2 separate regions of the Homo sapiens genome follow, and region 2 is linked to region 1. The links come from fine-mapping of genetic effects on gene expression. A gene starts in region 1. The other region holds a variant in brackets. All regions are shown on one strand. Distances are from middle to middle. Region 1 holds the start of NAGPA (N-acetylglucosamine-1-phosphodiester alpha-N-acetylglucosaminidase). Region 2 has its middle 160 kb from the start of MIR8065.

Region 1 (2,910 bases):
TACCCACAGCTGCATAACATAAGGGGAGCTGCACAGGCAGTTTTACTGGTAAGAAGTTACTCAGTTACCAGGAGGAGAGCAGTGTCCTATAAAAGTTTTTTGCGGCCAGGCACAGTGGCTCACGCCTGTAATCCCAGCACTTTGGGAGGCGGAAGGAGGCGGATCACCTGAGGTCAGGAGTTTGAAACCAGCCTGGCCAACATGGTAAAATTTCGTCTCTACCCAAAATACAAAAATTAGCAGGGCGCAGTGACGTGTGCCTGTAATCCCAGCTACTCGGGAGGCTGAGGCAGGAGAATCATTTGAACCCAGGAGGCAGAGGTTGTTGAGGTTGCAGTGAGCCAAGATCGCACCATTGCACTCCAGCCTGGGTGACAAGAGCAAAACTCTGTCTTAAAAAAAAAAAAAAAAAAAGCTTTTTGCATTCAGCTGTAACCCGACAATCCACTCGGACTCCCGTCTCCACTTTGGAGAGCTTTCTTCTTTCCCTTATTAAACGTTCGCTCCAACCCCACCCTTGTGTCCACGCTCCTTAGTTTTCTTGGAGGTAGGACAAAGAACCCCGGGACTAGTTCAGACAAGGAGAAACTGCTATATTAAGGTGCACTGGCAAGACCGCAACAGTATCAAGCCAATTAGACTTGCCGTGGCTCCTGGAATGGCCCACGCACTGCACTGGCACCAAGACACCACCCAACCCTGGACACTGCACTGGGACAGGAGGCCTGAAGAGAAGAATCCTCTCAAAGGAAGCTTGAAGTACATGCTACAAAATAAACTGGCTTCTATACTCAGGGCCAGCTTCATGGGCTCACTCAGAAGGTCCCTGGCTTGCTGCAACCATTTGCTCTGACCATCTTGAAATTCTTAATAGTTTTCTGGGTTTTTTAGTAAGTGTCCCCACGTTTTCATTTTGCATTGAGTCACACAAATCATGTAGCTGGGCTGTCTTCAAAAATGTCAAGGTAGTAAAAGACAAAAGGCTGAGGAGCCTTCCAGATGAAGAGATCAAAGAGACATGACAACTAAAAGCAACTCCTGGGTTACAGGGTCAGGGGCGGACAAAAAGGAAAAGAAAAAAAAAGACATTAGAGGGACAATTGAAGGTTAGCTGTGGATGACATCACAGAAATGTCAATGGGAGTTGTCCTAATGATATTTGCCCTGTGGTTAAGAAAATGCCCTTGTTCTTAGGAGATTCATGGCGAGGTATGGGGTAAAGGATCATGACATCTGCAATTTGGTTGCCATTGGTTCAGGAAAAAAAAAAAACAAAGTACAAATGATTGAGTAAATCAGGCAAGCCTAAACCACTGCTAAACATGAATAACAGTTCTACGAGAGTTCTTTATGCTCTCCTTGCAACTTCCTGTAGGTTTGAGATTACCTGGAGATAAAAAGTTAACATCACCAGCACCGCCCGCCAGCCCGCCAGCCGAAAAGAGCGCAGGTAATTCAGTCCGAGCTGAAAGCGGCCACCCTGGGACTTGAGTCACGTGAGGCGAGCCCACATGACCCGAGGCCCCGGTCCAATATGGCGACCTCCACGGGTCGCTGGCTTCTCCTCCGGCTTGCACTATTCGGCTTCCTCTGGGAAGCGTCCGGCGGCCTCGACTCGGGGTGAGTGCAGCTCCCTGGGCCAGCCTGGTTCGGGGGGTCCCCCCTGTCCTCCGAGCTCACGAGGACAGCCCCCTGAGCTCACGGCCGCCCGTCCCCGCAGGGCCTCCCGCGACGACGACTTGCTACTGCCCTATCCACGCGCGCGCGCGCGCCTCCCCCGGGACTGCACACGGGTGCGCGCCGGCAACCGCGAGCACGAGAGTTGGCCTCCGCCTCCCGCGACTCCCGGCGCCGGCGGTCTGGCCGTGCGCACCTTCGTGTCGCACTTCAGGGACCGCGCGGTGGCCGGCCACCTGACGCGGGCCGTTGAGCCCCTGCGCACCTTCTCGGTGCTGGAGCCCGGTGGACCCGGCGGCTGCGCGGCGAGACGACGCGCCACCGTGGAGGAGACGGCGCGGGCGGCCGACTGCCGTGTCGCCCAGAACGGCGGCTTCTTCCGCATGAACTCGGGCGAGTGCCTGGGGAACGTGGTGAGCGACGAGCGGCGGGTGAGCAGCTCCGGGGGGCTGCAGAACGCGCAGTTCGGGATCCGCCGCGACGGGACCCTGGTCACCGGGTGAGGAGGCAGGGAGCCCCGTGCTGTCGAGGGCAGAGGGCCTGAGATTTGGGTTGTAGCCGTGCCTCCGTGTTCAAGTCACTTAACCAAGCTGAGCCCCTGTTTCCTCCTCTGCAGAATGGGGATAGGAATCGCTTCCTTGCAGAGTTTATTCATCATCCAGTATCATTGAGCACTTGCTTGTATCAGGCAATGTGCCGCGCCCCGGTGAGATAGCCGTGAACAACACAGTCTTTGCCTTAACAGCCCTCCCCCATTACTAGAAAAATCAACAAAAGCCGGGTAAATAGCTAACATACATTCTGATTGCTGTGTGTGCAGCAAAGCAACCAACGGGGTGAACCCGTTGTAAATAGTGTTGATTTTAGGGAGGGTGATCTGGAACACGCCTCTCCGAGGTGACCTTTGAGTGGGAACTTGAAGATGAATCACTAAGTGAGCCAAGGTCAGAACTGGAGGAAGAGCGTTTCAGTCCAAAGGAACCCCACGCACAAAGGCTCAGAGGCTCAGGGGGGCTTGTGTGTATGAGGGACTGAAAAAGGAGTGGGGTGTCAGAAACATCAACTCATCAAGACTGATGATTTTTTTTTTTTTGAGACAGAGTCTTGCTCTGTTGCCCAGGATGGAGGGCAGTGGCATGATACCGGCTCACTGCAACCTCTGCCTCCCGGGTTCAAGCGATTCTCCTGCCTCAGCCTCTGGAGTAGCTGGGACTACGGACGTGTGCCACCACG
Region 2 (2,910 bases), 760 kb before region 1:
CTATTGCTGTCACCATCATCATCATCATCAGGGTGTGGAGACACCATCTGATACAGCCCTGCTTCATCCCTGGGATCCAGCTCATTCCATCCCATCTTGGAAATGTCATCTATGATGCCACCACCACTCCTGTTCCTCTCTCTGACCCCATGTGATGCTTTTGAGGCCACTGATCATATCACAAACCCTGGATACTTGATCACTGTGGATATATTTGGTCCAGATCCTGGATTGAGCAACTCATTCCTGATTCCTTGCTCGTGGCCATAGCTTGGCAAAAACTGCCTCTTTCCCATAACATGTTTCCTTCTTCCATGCTCCAGATTTCACCCATGTGGGCCACATCCACTTCCTTCCAGATCCAGATCTGTGCATTTCAGAACCCAGCCTCAGAAGTGGGTGGATCCACTTGACATCAGGGTTTTACTATTCCTGAGCCCAGTCTTGAGCTGCTTATGACCTTCCAAAACAGCTCACCAAAATTCAACCATGCCTTCACAAAGTGACAGAAGTCCTCCCTTCCCCCAATCTACAAGCTGAAAATGCACTAGATTCAACTGCTATGGAAATCTACAATGCATTGCACAGCCCTATGCAAATGGGAAAACCCAACTGTACTGCCAAAGTCTTTGAAAAGGTGGGGACTATTGATGCAACTGGTGAGTGTTGTCGACCTATCTCCAGTAGAGCAAACAAAAGAACTAAGTCATTAGAAAATGCAACAGAGACTGTGAGGCTCTAATGGCTTTGCAAATCAGTGAAAAAAAGCAAATCCTTCCCCAATGAATGTAAACAGAAGGGGAGAATGGGATTGTTTATCTTCCAGGTCTAAAGTCAAAAGTTAGGAGGGATATATGAATGTATATAATGGGGGAAATGGATCTATTTAGGAGGCCAGAGAAGGCTTCTTGAAGAAATGATATTTGAGTTAGGATTTGGAAGAAGAGTGGTCAGGGGTAAGGAGGGGAAAGAATTCCAGGTCAAGGAAACAACATATTGAAGACCAGGCTAGGCACAGTGGTTCATGTCTGTAATCCTAGCACTTTGGGAGGCCAAGGCAGGAGGATTGTTTGAGCCCAGGAATTCACAACCATAGCAATACCCCATCTCCACAAAAAATTAAAAATTTAGCCACGCACGGTGGTAGGTGCCTGTGGTCCCACTACTCGGGAGGCTGAGGCAGGAGGATCACTTGAGCCCAGAAGATTGACACAGCAATGAGCCATGATCTCGCCACTGCACTCCAGCCAGGGTAACAGAGTAAGACCTTGTTTCAAGAAAAAAAAAAAGAAGAAGGAAGAAGTGGAAGACAATAAGGTGGAACAGATCTTGGTCCTTAACAGGAACCAAGTGTCACTGGGCATAGTAATAGGGAGAGGGGGGATATGAAACTGACGTAGAATCATTTCTTGACATTTATGGGTTAGGCCTTTCGTGAGGTGTTTCAGATCCATCGCTACTGATCTACAGAAACAATATAATAAGGTAGGTATTTCTTTTCCCATTCTCCACATGAGAAACTGAGATGGAATAATTTAAGCAGCTTGGCCAAAGTCATACAACTGGGGAGAAGAAAAGTTAGATTTTGAGCCAAGGCATGTTGGCTTGAATGTGACTCCTTCTCAAGACCCAGTGAGATGAGAGTGGGTGTGTGCCTGGGGAATTCCACAGACAGTGTGTAGACTGG[G/T]ATCCCATGTGATGGGGTAGCTTCCATCTTGCCGAATGTCGCCATAGTAGGATTGCAGCCTCTTGGCGGCTAATACATAAGAGATGCCACTAGCCTCTGCCTAGATTTAATATTGGTTTAGCAGTCAGGAGTTAATTAAATGTTAATGTTCAGTCACTTGAAATTAAACATTAGGAACCTCAGCTTTATTTGTAAGTTTCTTAAGCCATCATTAAGGTGTTCTTCTTGGCTCCCCTCCTGCTGGGCCGCCCGACTCCTCCAGCTGCATCCCCCATCCACAGGCAAACTCATTTTGCTCACCACATGCCTTGACACACAACATCTGACCTGCCCGACAGCTATACCTCTCCAATGAGCAAATCTGAAAGGCTGCACACACCACACACACACACACACACGCACGCTGGCATTGAGTTTCACATAAGGTGAGTGTGCCTCTGGTATCACAGACATTTTGGTGTTTGTAATATTTTATAGATCACACAGTGCTTTCAGGTACATAATTGAATTTGGCCTCATAATGAGATGAAGGCAATGATGATAATAATGATGGAAGAGGACGAGGAATTAGTAAAGGATGAGGAAAAAAAGGAGGTGAAGGTGAAGATGGAAGGGAAGGTGAAGGAGGGAAACAAAGAGGAGGAAGAGAAGGAAAAAGAAAGGGGAAGAAGGACCATTTTGTAAGTGTTTTCTGTACGTTTCCATGCAATGCTCAGTATAACCCCATGACTTAGAGATTGTTACTGTGCTCACTTTACGGATAAAGAAAAAGCCCCAAGAGATTAAATCATATGCCCAACACCACAGATGTACTGGAATTAAATGTCAAGGTCGAGGCTCCAAATGCTCATTCCCTTAACCACAAATGACCACAGAAATGCAAAAAAGTGAAGTTCAGATCAGTTAAGAGGTTTGTCCAACACCTTGCAGTTTCATGATTTTACATATTAACTCTCCCAAAAAATGAAGCACAGAGAGCTTAAATGGCTCACCCAAGATCACACAGGTTTATAATGTGAGGATCAGGGAGAACGTGCTGGATTCCAGTCTCCCAGTACATTTGTGAGTATGTGCAAATGAACACTTGCACATGCACGCATGCAATGCACACTCACACACACATGCACATGCACATACACACATGCATGCATGCACACACACACACGAAGGCACATGTACATAGATCCAGGCTCCCTCCCAGCCTGGAAAGTCTCCCAATGGGG

What was found.
Region 2: its variant is fine-mapped to the expression of NAGPA in monocytes after LPS (Fairfax 2014, PIP 0.95).

What each region holds. Positions count from the first base shown.
Region 1 is chr16:5,032,539-5,035,448 of GRCh38, reverse strand. NAGPA (N-acetylglucosamine-1-phosphodiester alpha-N-acetylglucosaminidase) reads left to right here and starts at 1,514. Exons shown (of 10, transcript NM_016256.4): 1 at 1,514-1,620; 2 at 1,721-2,176. The coding sequence starts at 1,535. It overlaps NAGPA-AS1 (NAGPA antisense RNA 1), which reads right to left and starts at 1,747. Exons shown (of 2, transcript NR_038913.1): 1 at 1,388-1,747. RefSeq lists enhancers at 1,403-1,582, 1,776-2,277.
Region 2 is chr16:5,793,687-5,796,596 of GRCh38, reverse strand. It overlaps a transcript of RBFOX1 not described here. Among named protein-coding and RNA genes, the nearest start is that of MIR8065, 160 kb to the right of the region's middle. RefSeq lists an enhancer at 408-935. The variant G/T (reference allele first, on the strand shown) is at 1,688.